4 separate regions of the Homo sapiens genome follow, and regions 1, 3 and 4 are each reported to be linked to region 2. Evidence: microRNA targets listed by miRTarBase, many of them from high-throughput screens and not tested one by one. Region 2 holds a microRNA gene; each other region holds the end of a gene's coding sequence.

Region 1 (3,000 bases), not on the chromosome of region 2:
CAGAGGCTGGAGTGGGTGCGCCCCAAAGGCCCCGCCCAAGGAAGGGCACGCTTGCGTGCTCGCGGCGGCGGCCATCTTGGACTCGGGCAGCCGCCCACTTCTAACCTCTATGGCATCGCTCCGGGAGGGAGGCGACCCCGCACTCTGGGCCTCTTAAACCTGTGCTCGCGAGCCCCACATTGCTCTCCGGCCTCCACGTAAAACTCGAGCCAGTTTCCTGGTGGCAAGTCCTCACTCCTTGGGTGACTCTGAGAAAGCACCCGTTTCCTTATCTGTAAATAGTAGTTTGAGTACCCCCACCCCCGTCTCCTACCTATTATTTGGGCAGATGATGAACTCTCAGCATAAAGCCTGGCACACAGTATGTGTTCTATAAATGTTGTCTGTGAGCTTTTCCTGTACACTGCGGGGTGCCTTGTAGCAACCACCTTCCAGCCACCACTGCCTGCAGCGCCGCCTTTTCCCTTTTCCAAGATCGCGTCTGTACTAGACTCTGAAGACCTTGTGGAGGGAAAAGGGGCTTGGCAAGCCCACCCCAGGAGGGTGAAGGTGAAACTCACGAGTTCTCTTGGACTTGCATGTGACCCTTTTGGAAGGGCGTCAGAAACACAGACCAGGGTGCCCAGGACTGGAAAGACTGTAGATTTTGGAACATTTAAACGCCCCCATGCTTGTTATTTTTATCACCCCTGGCTGGGTACCCATAGGGACTCCCAAGCAGCATAAAACTAGAATGAAAGCCCTGCGTGTGTGCTGACTGTGGAGACATCAGGAAGGGGGAGCTGGGACATTGTGTCCCAGGCAGAGCTAAATGTGGGGGAGAAGGGCCTTTTGGACCAGCGTGGGTGGTAGCCCCAGGGTGGGAGAAGAATTCAGCCCAGGTCAGAGGTAGCCTGTGGGGGTCCTCAGATATGTGCAGCTGCTCCACCAGCTCTGTAGCTAAAGGACCTCCCAGACTTCCTAAAGGGTGGAAACTGCATGAAACCCAACGAGATGAGAGAAGTTCATGGGGAGGGGCGAACGCCTTCCATCGGAGTGGGGGCTGCAGAACCATACTCAGGCCTCTATGGGATTCTAGAGGCCTAGTGTGAGGTTTTATTCAGTAATAAGCCAGATGTATGCCAGGCGTGCCCAGGTTCCCACAGTCTGGCCTGATGGAAAGAGGGGTAGCAGAGAATACAAAAACTAAGTCAGGGTGAGGGGATTGCACAGTTTATTTCCAAACACTCAGAGGATAGGGGGTGGCCTATGGGCTCCATCTGCCTCCCCTCCCTGCATTTGGCTGAATCAAGAACTTCTCCCCCCTGACCCCCAAGACCCTAGGCTGTGCCCAATAGAGAAGGCACTGTCACCCCCCACCCTGAGGAGACCTAGACAGGTGAGGAGCATGGAGGGTGGGGGAACAGAGTTCAAGTATTCACAGTTCCCCCATCTACACCCCTGGATTACACTGTGCCAGAGCCATGAGGGAGGATCCCACCTCTGGGATTCCTAGTGGTGTTGATAGTCCTTCTCCCACTTAGAACCCTCCAGATGAACTCCCTACTCCTTTTCCCTGATATAACAAACCAAGTCCTAAGCCCTGTAGTCTGGGCAAGGAGGAGCCTTAGCAGGCCACTCACCCAAGGCCCCCAGGGATGGGGGTGAGAGCCTTCACCTGTAGTGAATGGGTTGGGAGCAAGTGTCTATAAGGAGAGAGGAAGGGAGAGAACTGAGAGGACCTTGGGAGGCAGGCTTGGAGGCTTCTGACACGTGAGTTCAGACAGCTCTGGTCTGCGACTCCACCCCACCCCACACCCCAAGCCCAGAATCCCTGAGAGTCCAACTGCAAAGGCAGTATGGCCGGAGGGAGGAATGGGAGCAGGGGTAGAGTTGAGCAGGACCTTGGCCCCCCTCTCCTAGTAGGTCCTGCTCCTGGGACACATGCTTAGGGACGGCCAGGACCAGGCTCAGGTCCTAGTCCCATCTCTTAGGGTGCTGATCTTCCAGAATAGCTGAATCCTGGGGAACATAGACCCACCAATCCCCACACCCCAGACGTCCTGGCCTCAGGTAGAATGGTGGGAATGGGCTCTCACAAGGGTATTATAAAAAGCTAAAACCGTTAAACACTTTCTGGGGAGAAGTGGCTCCCAGTCTCTTGCCTCCCCAAGTTATCAGTCTCCCCAGCGCCTAGCAGACAGGGCTAAGGAGGTCCCAGAGAGCTGAGGGAGGAGACGGCCACAGCCCCTGGGCCCAGAGAGAGGGCCCACTAGCACCATGCAATGTTGAGGTGCCTCTGCAGCCTGACTGGCCCCCACGCAGGGGCCCTCCGAAGCTGGAGTGCACACTTGCTAAAGCTTCTGTACTCTTGAGGGGGGACCCCTGCAAGGGAACAGAGAAGGCAAAGACTTCGCTTAAGTCCAGGCAGGGGTCTGAACCGGGACCCCAAAGGGCACCCTTGGGAGTCATGATTTGAAGAATCTTCGTACCACAAACTGGCCCAACAGAACCACACCCAGAACCACCAGCACGTTCAGGATGGGACCATTGCCCAAGTTCAGGGCTGCCACCTGCCGGGAGAAACAAGGTGGTCACAGAGAGGCTAGCAGAAGATATAGGAACCCGAGGAAGGGGTGGGGCCTGGGAGAGGGGCAGCCCCAACAGCAGGGAGGACATTGCAGTCCTTGGATACTCACCCAGCCACCCCTCTGTGCAATCCACCGGGCAATGCAGTGATGCAGCATGAAGTCGACCACGAAGCGGGTCACCTGGCCTAGGAAGCCAGTCAGGCCATGCTGGTAGACGTGTAGGGCCAGACGGTAGCCGAAGCCCAGAAGAGCCACCACACGGCCCCAATTGATGCCACTCTCAAACAGGCTGTGGGCAGAGCATCCCATAGCATTGGTGGAGAGCCCCCAGGAAGCCCTTCAGCCTGCCTGGCCTCTCCCACCCCTCTCCCAGCTGGAAGCTAAATAGCTTAGCTGTGAATTAAGGCCGCAGAGGCTGCCCCAACCTGGC
Region 2 (4,058 bases):
GGAGCAGCAGGCGGGGCCCCTGGTGAGGATGCCTTGTAACCTTGCGGCTTGGCTTCACCGCAGATCCACTCTGGAATGACACGGTTCCCACCCCGCCACCTTCCCCCTCAAAACACTGATCGGGCGACGATCCGCTGGGCCGGCAGCTGGAGCCCAGCCGTGGCCCTGCCTGAGCCAGTCCAGTTTGTAAAATAAATAGCAAGCGTTGCCGGCTTCTGTACCTCCTCCCTGTGCCTGCCGGCCCCGCCCAGCCACTCAGACACTTGTTTCCGGGGTGTGAACCACCTCCCCGTTTTTCTCAGGCTCAGCCTTCAGGAAATGCTCCACCTCCCGCAAGTCCACCCCCGAGTCTGCAGGAGGCTTGTGGAGCTTCTCCTCCTCCGCGGCCGCCACCTCAGGCTGTGGCTCTTTGGGCTTCTTCCTAATGCAGAAGAAGTTGCCCAGCAGCAAAATCAGGGAGGAGGTGAGCACCTCGGCCCCCGCCAGGATGAACACGTACATGTAGACGTGGGTCGCATCCAGGAGTTTGCCTGCGGGAAGACCCCGTCAGTCCCAGCCGCTCATGCGGGCTGCCCCCAGGGCCCACGGCTCCACCCAAGCCTGTGTCTCGGTGTCTCAGCACGCAAGGGTCACCCTGTCTGCCTCTGAGCTTGTGGGGCTGGGAGGTGTTCTCTCCCCTCCATGTGTTTCAGCTGGGGGCATCCTCCCTCCTCCTCAGGGGAACCAAGACTTAAGAGGCTAAAAATAGCAATGGCTTTGTGGAGTTTGGGTTTCGGTTGGTGGCAGGAGTCACGCTGGTCCCCACGGAGTCCCCCTGAGGCTTCCAGTCGGCAGCCCCAGAAGCCCTACTGTGTTCAGTACCAGCCCTGTGCCCTGGCCACCGCGGACTCCAAGACATGAGCCCTCCCCAAGCCCAGGACCCCCTCGCCAGGCAGGCGGAGCCTGGGCAAGGCTGCTCCAGTCAGAACTTAATTTCCCTCACGTGTTAGCTCAGTCATCCTTCAAAAAGGAGAGGCCCCAAAATGCAAAAGCCGGCTGTTGGGTTGCCTGGAGCTGCCGCGTGGTGCCCAGGCAGAGCCTGGAGGAGCTGCCCCCCCCCGGGCCCAGCCCCTAGCCACCCTGCCTGTCTGGACACACTGTGCCGGACGGAGCACCCCACTCCTAATGGAGACCCGCTAGCCCCAGCAGAATCAGGGTTGGTCCAGCACAGTGCACCCCCTCCAGCTCTGAGTCCCACACTGCGGGTGGCTGCCGAGGGGTGCGCGTCCCCCCCCTCGCAAAGCGGGCGTCTGACGGGAAGGGCAGGTGTGGGGAACTGCCTGGGGGCGCAGCGCTCACCTCCCGAAGGGGGCCCGACGAGCACGGCCACCGCCTCCATCAGCAGCACCAGGCCAATGGCACTGGAGAACTTGTGGGTGCCCACGATGGCCATGAGCACCTCGAACTGCAGGGCCCCCACCATGCCGTAGGAGATGCCAAAGAAGATGCAGAAGACCACGAGGCCGCCGTAGTCGCCCGCCGTAGAACCCGCCAGGTCCGCGAGGCCGTTGAAGAACATGGAGAAGCTGAAGAGGTAGACGGAGTAGGGCCGCACCTTCCCAAGCCCCGCCACGAAGCCCGCGGCCGGCCGCGCGAAGATGTCAATGAAGCCCAGGATGGTGAGCAGGAAGGCGGCCTTGGTGTCGGGCACGCCCAGGTCCTTGGCGTAGCTCACCACGAACACGGGCGGGACGAAGAGCCCCAGCACCATGACCGAGGCGGCCACGGCGTAAAGCACAAAGCCGCGGTCCCGGAAGACGCTCAGGTCTAGCAGGCGCCGGGAGGGTCGCGGCGGCCCCGAGCCCGGCTGGGCCGTGACCACCAGGGGCCTCATGAGTGCGGCACACACGCAGCAGTTGAGCAGCAGGCCGCCCAGGATGAGGAAGCCGCCCCGCCAGCCGTAGCGGTCCTGCAGCAGCTGCCCCAGCGGGCTCAGGGCACACAGGAAGACAGGGCTACCTGCTGCCGCCAGCCCGTTGGCCATGGGGCGCCGCTTGCTGAAGTAGCGGTTCAGCATGATGAGCGAGGGCTGGAAGTTGAGTGCCAAACCCAACCCTGGAGGAAAGGGAATGTGGTGAGAGCCCCCCAAGGCTGCCCCAAAGCCCGAGACCCTCATCTCTGCCCCCAGGTTCCCACAGGCTCAGGCTCCCAGGGTGCAGAGCCCCTGCCACCCACCCACTCGAGAGGGGGACAACGAGGTGGGGCCGGGACACCCCGCAGCCACCCGCCCTGCTGTCCTCCAGAGGCCTGGACCCAGGAGCAGAAGTGCACGGCCCCTGCCCCTCCTGGCACGTGCGGCCCACCGGCCGGCCCCACTCACCCGTGATGACCCCAGTGGTGAGGTAGACCTGGATGATGCTCCGGCAAAAGGACGCAGCCACCATGCCCAGCGACGCAAAGAGACCCCCCACAAGCATGACGGGCCGGCAGCCAAAGCGGTTCACGCACACACTGCAGAGCGGACCTGGAGAGGGCAGCAGCTGAGAGGGGCCGGGCCTGCAGCCAGCTCTACCCCCGCCAGCCGACTGAGCTCACAGCCTGGAGCCGGCCTCCCCTTCCCACACCACCCCTCCCCCCGCGGGGCACCAGGGGCACCCCGTGGGCAGGCTCCCCGAGCGCAGGCCATGATGACACGTGAGCGCCGCCTGCTGGGCCCCTTGGGTCCCTGCAGCTCAGGAACAGCCACCTTTTCAGGAACGGCTCTCAGGAGCCTGTCCTCTGAGACGGTCTATAAATACAGCCGACCCGTTTGGACAGGGGCCAGGATGGACTTCGCGCCCTGCCTGGGTTGGCCCCGTGGAGAGCATGTTGCTGCCCAGCAGGATCCTGGCCCCAAGGGCTTCCCTCCAGGGTTCCCTGGGGAGCAGGCGGAAGGCCCTGTTGCTGAGCCCAGCTACACGCGCCCAGCAGGATCCGCCAGCAGAGCCCCGGACAGGGGGCCCGGTGTGAGGCCACCCTCACCTGTCCCGTAGAGCATGGCCAGCAGGATGGAGGAGATCCAGGCTGTGTCGCTGTAGCCGATCCCAAACTCCTGTATGAGCTCCTTGAAGAAGACACTGACGGCCTTGGGGAAGGCGTAGGAGAAGCCAGTGATGACGAAACAGCCGAAGAGCACGGCCCAGCCCCAGCCGCCGTCAGGGGCCTTGACGCCTGTGGGGCCCTCGTCCACCACGGCCCCTCCCATGGCCAGGAGGGTTGGTTCCGCCTCACCTGAGAGAGAAAGCAGGCTGACTCAGGCTGCCCGGGTGACCATCCCAGCTGCAGCCTGGCAGGGGAGGGACACGAGCTGGGTGGCCCGGCAGCTCAGCTGAGGGGCAGCTGCCCGGCACCCACACTTGTGGCCCCCTGACCTGGTGTCTGGTGGAGGCAGGAGGGTTTGGAGGGAGGCTAGCAGCTGTGGGTCCCACTCCCTCTGCACTGCCTCCTGCACCCTCACAGCTGGCTCTAAAGGGCAGTGGCTTTTTTGGGCTCGGCCAGGACTCAGATTACCTCCTGGGACAAGCAGCCCCCGACAGGAACATCGACCTGGCCGTCATTTCTGCCCTGGCTCGCTCTGGCTGACCCGTGCTGGGCAGGGACCACGCACACCATGATTCTGGCAGCAGACGGCACCTCCGGTCCCCAGCACTGAGCTCGCCCCAGGACCTCTGGGGTTGGCATCCTCCAGGTCTCTCCCGGTCTAAATCTAGGTGGAGCGTGCCTTGCTCTGGCTCTCCTGCCCCCAAGGGCCCACTTTGGCTTCAGTGGAGCCCACCAGGAGCTTGCCCAAGAGGAGGCGGGCAGTCTCTGGCGGTGAGGGGCTGGGCCCCAGGCTGGAGGGGGCAGTTGGAAGCACAGGGGCTGCAGTATTAGAGTGGGTGGGGTGGGGAAGTGGGGGCAGAGCTGGCCCCTTGTCCCTGGATGCCCCCTTGCCTCCCACCGGCCCTCTTGCTCAGTGACTCCTCCAGTGAGATCTTGACTCACCCCACCTGTGCCTGGAGTGACCCATAGGCTGCAGCCTGAAATCAGGAGGGGCTAGG
Region 3 (4,058 bases), not on the chromosome of region 2:
ATTTAATTTTGGTAAAGCACTTTATGAGCTGACACAGTAAATGTGTATCTTTGTGGTTAAGAATTTATACCCTCCAAATTATGCGTCTGGTGCCTTGGTTGAAAGTATTCTCACTTCATGGTTGCTGTATTACAGGTACGGTATTCTCACCAAAATCATTTCTCTTTGTAATTATGATACTGATTTTAATGCCGCACATTTGCATACTATATGCTTGTTACAGTGATCCCCACAGTAACTCATGAAGCAGCCACTCATTGTACAAATGAACGTCTCCATATAATAGTTTAGCTATTATACAGTACATGGCAGAAACACAATTCAAACTCAAGTTTATACGAATACTTTCAAGTCTCCTTACCTGAGAGCAGAAAGTGACATTTAAATTTAAAGGAGTTCCCAGCCTTTGTTTTCAGTGCAGTTTGTTTCATGGTGTAGGCAGAAGTCAGGGCTGTGTGATTGTGTGGCTGGGCTCTCTGGATTTGGCTCTTTGGGTTGCAGGAGTCATGGCTCATACGCTACATGAGGCACCAGCTCATGTAGGCACTGTCAGTTCCTATGTGCCCCACAGGAAAGCGCCCTTAACCACTGATGAGTGTTGATGTTTTTCTGCACTAGAAGGCACTATGTTGAACTATTAAACTTACCAGCACTTTCTTTTTCCACTCCATAGTTTCATTGTACTGACAACCTCAGCTGGCATCATGGACCATGAAGAAGCAAGACGAAAACACACAGGAGGGAAAATCCTGGGATTCTTTTTCTAGGGATGTAATACATATATTTACAAATAAAATGCCTCATGGACTCTGGTGCTTCCACTTGGTCGTTTTGAGCCTTTACAGCAGTGTAGCCACAGCTTCTGCGGCAGCATGCAGTTGCTTCGTTTATCGGTGAATGCGATTCCCTGAAGTGACTAATACAGCCAAGGGAAAAAGTTCTTATGAAACCAGTATGCCTAAGAAACAGTCACCCCTGCTGTCTGCCAAAACCAGGTATTTGACACTAAATATTTTAGTTGTATTTCAGTTTTTTTTTTTTTTTTTCTTTTTTGGAGACAGAGTCTGACTCTATTGCTCAGGCTGGAGTGCAGTGGCGCGATCTTGGCCCACTGCAACCTCCACCTCCCGGGTTCAAGTGATTGTCCTGTCTCAGCCGCCTGAGTAACTGGGATTACAAGTGTGTGTCGCCACATCCGGCTAATTTTTATATTTTAGTAGAGACAGGGTTTCGCCATGTTGCCCAGGCTGGTCTTGAGTTCTGGGCCTCAAGTGATCAGCCTACCTCGGCCTCCCGAAGTGCTGGGATTACAGCCACGAGCCATTACACCTGGCCTATATTTCAGTATTTTCTATTAGTTTTTGATGAATTTGTTTTGCCTGGCTAGGATTATTCTGTAGATAGGATTTTAGATCTGGCTTTTGTCACTGACTGCTGTAATAAATACTTGCTAGGAATTTTTTTTTTTTTTTTTTTTTTTTTAAGACAAAGTCGCTCTGTCACACAGGCTGGAGTGCAGTGGCATGATCTTGGCTCACTGCACCTCCGCTTCCCAGATTCAAGTAGTTCTCGTGCCTCAGCCTCCTGAGTAGCTGGGATTACAGGTGTGTGCCACCATGTCTGGCTGATTTTTGTATTTTTAGTAGAGGTGGGGTTTCACCATGTTGGCCAGGCTGGTCTCGAACTCCTGATCTCAAGTGATCTGCCTGCCTTGGTCTCCCAAAGTGCTGGGATTACAGGTGTGACCACCACGCCCTGCCTTAAGAATTGTTCCAAGAGAATCTGGTGCCACTTGCAGGTGCCCATTGAAGTGCAATGGGCACTGTTGATCACTGAGGAGGTAGTGGGTGCTGACCCGGTGCTGGGGCCTGTCCCCTAGTCTCTGCTTTGCCCTTGGCTAGCTAGGTGGTGTGCCAAGTGGGGAGAGAAGCTACCTTATTAAGGGGCATGGATCAGCTTCCTGAAAGGAGGGCCTGCCTCTGTAAGATATGGGAAGTCGCTGAGAATGTTACAGAACGGCCCTAGAGATGGGGCAGATAACGGCCCCCATTTGTGAGAAGTGAGTTGGGAGGCATGTTTGGGGCCTCTGATGTTTGGGAGGCTGTGGGTAATTAACATGAGTTTTGGGGTCCAGCAGCAGAATTCAGGTTTCCTCTTCCACTCAGTAACCTCAGCATCCGTATCTGTAATGGGAATGATACAAAACCTATCCCCAAGTTGAGGGAAAAATGAGATTGTGTAAAGCGCACTTGGCACATGACAGTCACAAGCATGGGGACAGTGAGTCCAGAAGGATTTTCTTATGCCAGCATTGTAAGCCCTAGGATCACAGGGCTCTGGCTTGTTTAACCATCGTGTCTCTGGTCCCTAGCCTGCAAACCTGGTGTGTAGGGATGCCTCAGTCGCTTACATGTTGATTGAGTGAATCGTCGGTTTCTTTCTGGACACTGACTTCAAAAATAAAATAGGATATGAAAATGGCTCCATTTGTTGTCACCATTTTGTGGGGATCCTATGTCCTTTGAAGTGGTCAGGAGTGGGAGAAACGTGACAGGGGAAGAAGGAGTGGTGTGGCTGATGGATTTAACATGTGTTCTTTTATGTTGGCAAGGAAGCGGATGACCTTACCCCTTGTTCCTCAGATCCTGTAAATGGCTTTATAACATGACCCAGGGCTGCTTGGTGTGGGACTAGACCCCAGGGTTTGAGGGTCTGAAGACAATTTAGGTTCGTGCTGGCAGGATGTCTTGGCTCAGAGACAAGTATTTCTGTGGGGTGATCCCAGCATCCTCCCAGCATACTGCTGCTGTTGCTAGGCAGAGACCCCGGAGTGGGGAGAGGGTGATAGCATCTGGATCATCCATTCCTACCTAGGTGGTTTTGGCTCATAGTAAAAGGGACCCAGCACCTATCCGCTGCTCAGCCTCGGAGCTGCAGGTGTCAGGGATATGATGCACTGTCCAAAAAGACATGCAAAACTTAACACCCCTGCATTTTCATGGAGAGACCCCGTGGAGCCTCTGACCAGAGGCTGAAAGAAATGTGTCATTCAAAAGACCAGGGAACCACTGCCAAGGACCCCTACATTCAGCAACACATCTATACTCGTGCCTGCCACGTGTCCTCACTTAGAGGCTATTGTCTCACCTCAGGGTCAGGAGTGCCAGGTGAAAGAGCACACAGGTCTCTGGGCAAGGCAGAGTTTGAAGCTAGGTCTGGACCAACGTCTGAGAGGATGACTTCACCCCAGGCGAGGAAGTTCACTTTGAGCTCCTGGCCAGGGAGAAAGCAAGCTCTGGGAGACCTAAACTCTGAATCTCACTTGGCTTTTCAGTCTAATCCGTTGTTGCCAAAGACATACTTGGCAATCCCGAATCCTCAGAGGGCTCCATACGTGCTGCGCTTCAGCCTTCGCTCACGGTTCATCCCACCTGGAATGCCTTTTTCTCTCCAAAGATGTTCCCAAGAGCCAAGTTAAATGTCACTTCCATTTATCTTCCTCCAAAAGGAACATGTGTTTTACTTCATCTTTCTCCTAAAAATGTGGAAGCCTTAATGAGACTAATAATGGTTGTTAGTGCTTGCCAGGCGTGGAGCTAAGAGTGTTACATATATTATTTAATCTGAGCAATCCTGCATCATGGGTACTATTACCAGCTCCAGTTTTTTTGAGACGGAGTCCGTTTTGTCGCCCAGGCTGGAGTGCAGTGGCATGAGTTCAAGCGATTCTTATGCTCCAGCCTTCTGAGTGGCTGGGACTACCAGCACACATCACCACGCCCGGCTAATTTTTTTTGTATTTTAGTAGAGACAGGGTTTCGCCGTGTTGGCCAGGCTGGTCTTGAACTCCCGTCCTCAGGTGACCTGCCCGCCTCAGCCTCCCAAAGTCCTGGAATTACAGGCGTGAGCCACTGCGCCTGGCCCAGCTCCAGTTGTTCAGGTGAAAAAGGTGAGGCACAGAATTGGAAAGCCATTTGTCCAAGAGGCTAGGAAGTGGTCACGTGAGCATTTAAATGTTTTTAAGCCTCAGCCTACTCCAGGCCCTTAGCGTGTTTTGT
Region 4 (4,021 bases), not on the chromosome of region 2:
CCCCGTGCCATTTGCTTAACTCCTCTGGGAACTTGCAGGACTGGAGTTCCCCAGCAGCACCTCTCAGTTAACATTTTCTCACGCTTCTCTCCTGCACAGATGGGGAAAGCCAGCACACAGGACAGTAAACCTCCTGGGACTTCAAGCTATGAAATTGTGATCTAGGCTGCTGGGCTGAATTCTCCCTCTGGAAACTGAGTTACAACCACCAATACTGGCAGGTTCCCTGGATCCAGATCTTCTCTGCCCAACTCTTACTGGGAGATTGCAAACTGCCACATCTCAGCCTGTAAGCAAAGCAGGAAACCTTCTGCTGGGCATAGCTTGTGCCTAAATGGACAAATGGATGCATACCCTTCCTGAAATGACTCCCTTCTGAATGAATGACAAAGCAGGTTACCTAGTATAGTTTTCCCAAACTTCTTCCCATCATAGCACATGTAGAAAATAATATTTTTATGGCACACTGGGATAAACAAGCAAGATTGCTCACTTCTGGAAGCTGCATATGACTAGAGGCCTCTTGTGACTGGAGGTAACAACCCTGCCCAGTAACTGTGGGAGAAGGGGATCAATATTTTGCACACCTGTAATAGGCCATGGCACACCAGCCAAGATGCTCTGCTCACAGTCAGTATGTGTGAAGATCCCTGGTGCGTGGCCTTCACCACGCATCTTGAGCAAATTAGGAAAATGTACCCTTCGCTTGAGGCAGATGCAGCCCTTCCCCCGAGTGCATGGCTTGGAGAGCAGAATGTGGGCTGCATATAAGCACACTCATCCCTTTGTCTGGGAATCTTTGTGCAGGGCATAACAGGCTTAGTAAGTCCAAACACAGATGACAGTGCTGTGTGGGTCTCTGTCAGAGTTGTGGCTCTCAGCCATGTAGACACACTCTCCAAATGGAGTGTTGGAAAATGTTCTTTCTGCAGGGTCTAGAGACTGCTGGGACACTTTTCTTGGAGTGCTACTTCAGAAGCCTTATAGGATTTTCTTTCTGGCCAAGATTTCCTTCTGTATCACTCCAAGCAGCCTCAGCAGAAGAAGCAGCCATGCCCAGTATTCCCACTCTCCAAAAGGAACTGACCAGCTTATATTTCTCACACTTCTGGGGAACTGGGTATAATCCAACCATCAAAATAGAAGACCTTGCAAGAAGCAGAGTCATTCTCCAGAAGGAACTTGGGAGATGATGGTGCAGATGATGAAACTGGGTTCATCCCAGTTCCAAAGACTCAGAGAACTAGAGTTTAAGCTGAGGCAGAGTGCCGCCACCCTGGCATGCCCCACAAACAGATCACCAGCCAGCTTACACAGGCATTAACTCTCCTCAATGAGGAAGAATCATTCACAACTGAGCAAGACATTCATATGATCATTTAAGGAAGTGTTTCCCTTATGTGTTAGCAAGTATAATCGGCTAACTCCTAAATCCCAATGAATAGTCCTAGGCTGGACAGCAATGGGCTGCAATTAGGCAGATAAAGACATCAGTCCCAGTAAATGAATCCATAGACTCATCTAGCACCAACTACCATTAGCACTATGTTAGGAGCTGCAAGGCCCCAAAGTAGAAGATGTGCATAATGTCTGCTCTTGTGTAGCTCAGGAGACAATTCCAGCACAGACACTACAGTTAACGCTGAACTGCAGCTGCAAGTAATAGCATGAACAGTCAGAAAAATACCTTATGAGGGGGCAGGGCTGAAGCTGGGCCTTGAAGGATGGATGAAATTTGGATAGAGAATGAGGAAGACAGAGGGCCTCCAAGTGAGAGAAGCATGAAAAATGAGCAGGGGCCTGGATCAGTGGGGTGTATTCAGAGCACCTCTCCAGATGCACCATGCATGCTCACAGTCCCTTGCCTATGTGTGGCAGAGTGTCCCAGCCAGATGTGTGCCCTCACCCCATGTCCATTTACATGTCCTTCAATGCCCACCTCAAAAGGTACCTCTTCTGTAAAGCTTTCCCTGGTATCAGGAATCAAAATTAATCAGGGATCTTTTCACACTGCTGTTTTTTCCTCTTTGGTCCTTCTATCACTAAAACTCATCTCATTCAGCCTTACAGCATAACTAATTATTTGTTTTCCTCACTACATTGTACATGTGGGAATTACAGATAAACGGAAGCCGGCTGGGGTGGTGGCTCACGCCTGTAATCCCAACACTTTGGGAGGCCAAGGCAGGCGGATCACCTGAGGTCAGGAGTTCGAGATTAGTCTGGCCAACATGGTGAAACCCCATCTCTACTAAAAATACGAAATTAGCCAGGTGTGGTGGCACACATCTGTAGTCCCAGCTACTCTGGAGGCTGAGACAGGAGAATCGCTTGAACCCAGGAAGTGGAGGTTGCAGTGAGCTGAGATCACACCACTGCACTCCAGCCTGGGAGAGACAGAGTGAGACTCCATCTCGAAAAAAAAAAAAAGATAGAAGCCAATAAGCATGGTGCAATCAAATTCTGGCAAGCATTAAATATCAGGATGCAGCTGGGCACGGTGGCTCACGCCTGTAATCCCAGCACTTTGGGAGGCCAAGGTGGGCGGATCACTTGAGGTCAGGAATTTGAGAGGATCCTGGCCAGCATGGCAAAACCCCATCTGTACTTAAAATACAAAAAAATTAGCTGGGCGTGGTGGTGCACACCTGTAATCCCAGCTACTTGGGAGGCTGAGGTGGGAGAATTGCTTGAACCTGGGAGGTGGAGGTTGCAGTGAGCTGAGATCCTGCCACTGCACTCCAGGCTGGGCAACAGAGTGAGACCATGTCTCAAAAAATAAAAATAAAATAAAATAATATCAGGATGCATACATCAGAGGCTGTTCCTAGTGTAAAGGCACTTTGGAGGGAGAAGACTTTCAGAGTTAGGCAGACCAACTAAGAGGTCAGCTGAAGCACCTAACCAGTTGTAAGGAGGTGAAAGACAGCACCCCAAGAAGAGACGTGCAGGAAGGAGGAAAGAGGCTTGGTCATAAAGGATGGAGGAATTCCAAAGTGACACTGAACAGGCTGCGTTTATCCTAAAATAAAACCACTCCTCACTCTGTGGATGCGTTGAAGACTCATTCCCAAACATCTTTATTCTCTAACTTGCCCTCTTCCTCTTCCTAATATGCTCACTCAAGTAAAATTACTAGTGTCCTAATGCCCCTATGCATATTGTCAAAAATAAAAATCAGAAGCAGGTTAGATCTGTTAGGTCTTCCAGAAGAGCAAACCTGGGATGAAGCCAGAGCCCAGGAATTCTGAAGGTAGCCTTTGGACTCAGGACACCCTACTCTTGTCTCTCCTCTCAGTTTCTCTGCTATGAATCTCCTGATTCATGAACACGTTATCTGTTCACCCTTCTCTCTAGGTCTTAGTTCTTAGATTTTCCTTCTGTAAAATGCATGTGATCTTATTTTCCCCTCCACAACTTTCCAGATGAACTAGACTGTGACCAAGAGGTCTATAAAATCAAAGCATCATGGAACAGGATCTTGTATCAGACCAAAGTGTGCCAGTTTTTAAAAATGTGCATCAAAATGGAAGTCTCAGAGACAGAGCCCTCTGGTGGAAAGTTCTAGTAGGTTAGGACAGTCCTGCCTGCAGACACCTTGGGCTTTACTGAGGGACTCAACTGAGAAAATGAGGAATGTTGCAGCTCATGATTCTTAGAAGAAGAAAGTGAAGCTTGTTTAAAATATGATTTAAAAAATCTGTAGAACACTGTAAACTACACAGGCTATGAGGGAATAGCCTGGTTGGGCCAGCTTGGAAATCGGGCACAGGCAGGAAGGGGCCTGTCTGGTTTGGGCCGTGTCCACAGAGAGCACTTCTTAGGTCCTGCCTGGAGAGAAGGAATGGCTGGGCTATATTTTCTTCCAGACTCATTATTTTTCTTCTGTTTGACTTTTCTCTGAATTTCCCTTGATTTGTATAAATTTTCTCAATAATTAGTGACAGTGTCTACTGATTGTAAAATGAAGCTTGAAGGCCAGGCGCAGTGGCTCATGCCTGTAATCCTAGAATTTTGGGAG

What was found. Region 2 holds the annotated microRNA hsa-miR-6787-3p (UCUCAGCUGCUGCCCUCUCCAG, at 2,504-2,525, opposite strand). A microRNA usually pairs through its seed, bases 2 to 8, with sites in the 3' UTR of a target mRNA and lowers its output. Matches are read on the target gene's strand: a 7mer-m8 pairs with bases 2 to 8, a 7mer-A1 pairs with bases 2 to 7 and ends in A, and an 8mer does both.
Region 1: miRTarBase lists BAK1 as a target of hsa-miR-6787-3p. The part of its 3' UTR that is shown has no 7-base or 8-base seed match.
Region 3: the mRNA of RPS15A is a reported target of hsa-miR-6787-3p. Seed matches in the 3' UTR shown: 7mer-A1 at 1,999-2,005.
Region 4: the mRNA of CD84 is a reported target of hsa-miR-6787-3p. Seed matches in the 3' UTR shown: 7mer-m8 at 1,254-1,260, 7mer-A1 at 2,313-2,319, 8mer at 2,360-2,367 and 8mer at 2,719-2,726.

What each region holds. Positions count from the first base shown.
Region 1 is chr6:33,571,356-33,574,355 of GRCh38, forward strand. BAK1 (BCL2 antagonist/killer 1) reads right to left here. Exons shown (of 6, transcript NM_001188.4): 5 at 2,679-2,859; 6 at 1,197-2,552. The coding sequence ends at 2,448. Among named protein-coding and RNA genes, the nearest start is that of BAK1, 7.4 kb to the right of the region's middle. RefSeq lists an enhancer at 62-351.
Region 2 is chr17:82,235,174-82,239,231 of GRCh38, reverse strand. MIR6787 (microRNA 6787) reads right to left here and starts at 2,564; the gene lies at 2,504-2,564. SLC16A3 (solute carrier family 16 member 3) reads right to left here. Exons shown (of 5, transcript NM_004207.4): 2 at 3,001-3,249; 3 at 2,360-2,503; 4 at 1,339-2,094; 5 at 1-530. The coding sequence starts at 3,223. The coding sequence ends at 256. It also overlaps a transcript of CSNK1D not described here. RefSeq lists enhancers at 1-431, 1,202-1,973, 2,798-2,987.
Region 3 is chr16:18,779,718-18,783,775 of GRCh38, reverse strand. RPS15A (ribosomal protein S15a) reads left to right here. Exons shown (of 5, transcript NM_001019.5): 5 at 674-2,481. The coding sequence ends at 767. Among named protein-coding and RNA genes, the nearest start is that of RPS15A, 8.6 kb to the left of the region's middle.
Region 4 is chr1:160,544,400-160,548,420 of GRCh38, reverse strand. It overlaps CD84 (CD84 molecule), which reads left to right. Exons shown (of 7, transcript NM_003874.4): 7 at 100-4,021. The coding sequence ends at 165. The region is part of intron 1 of CD84-AS1 (CD84 antisense RNA 1); the gene reads right to left. Among named protein-coding and RNA genes, the nearest start is that of CD84-AS1, 9.3 kb to the right of the region's middle. RefSeq lists an enhancer at 1-150.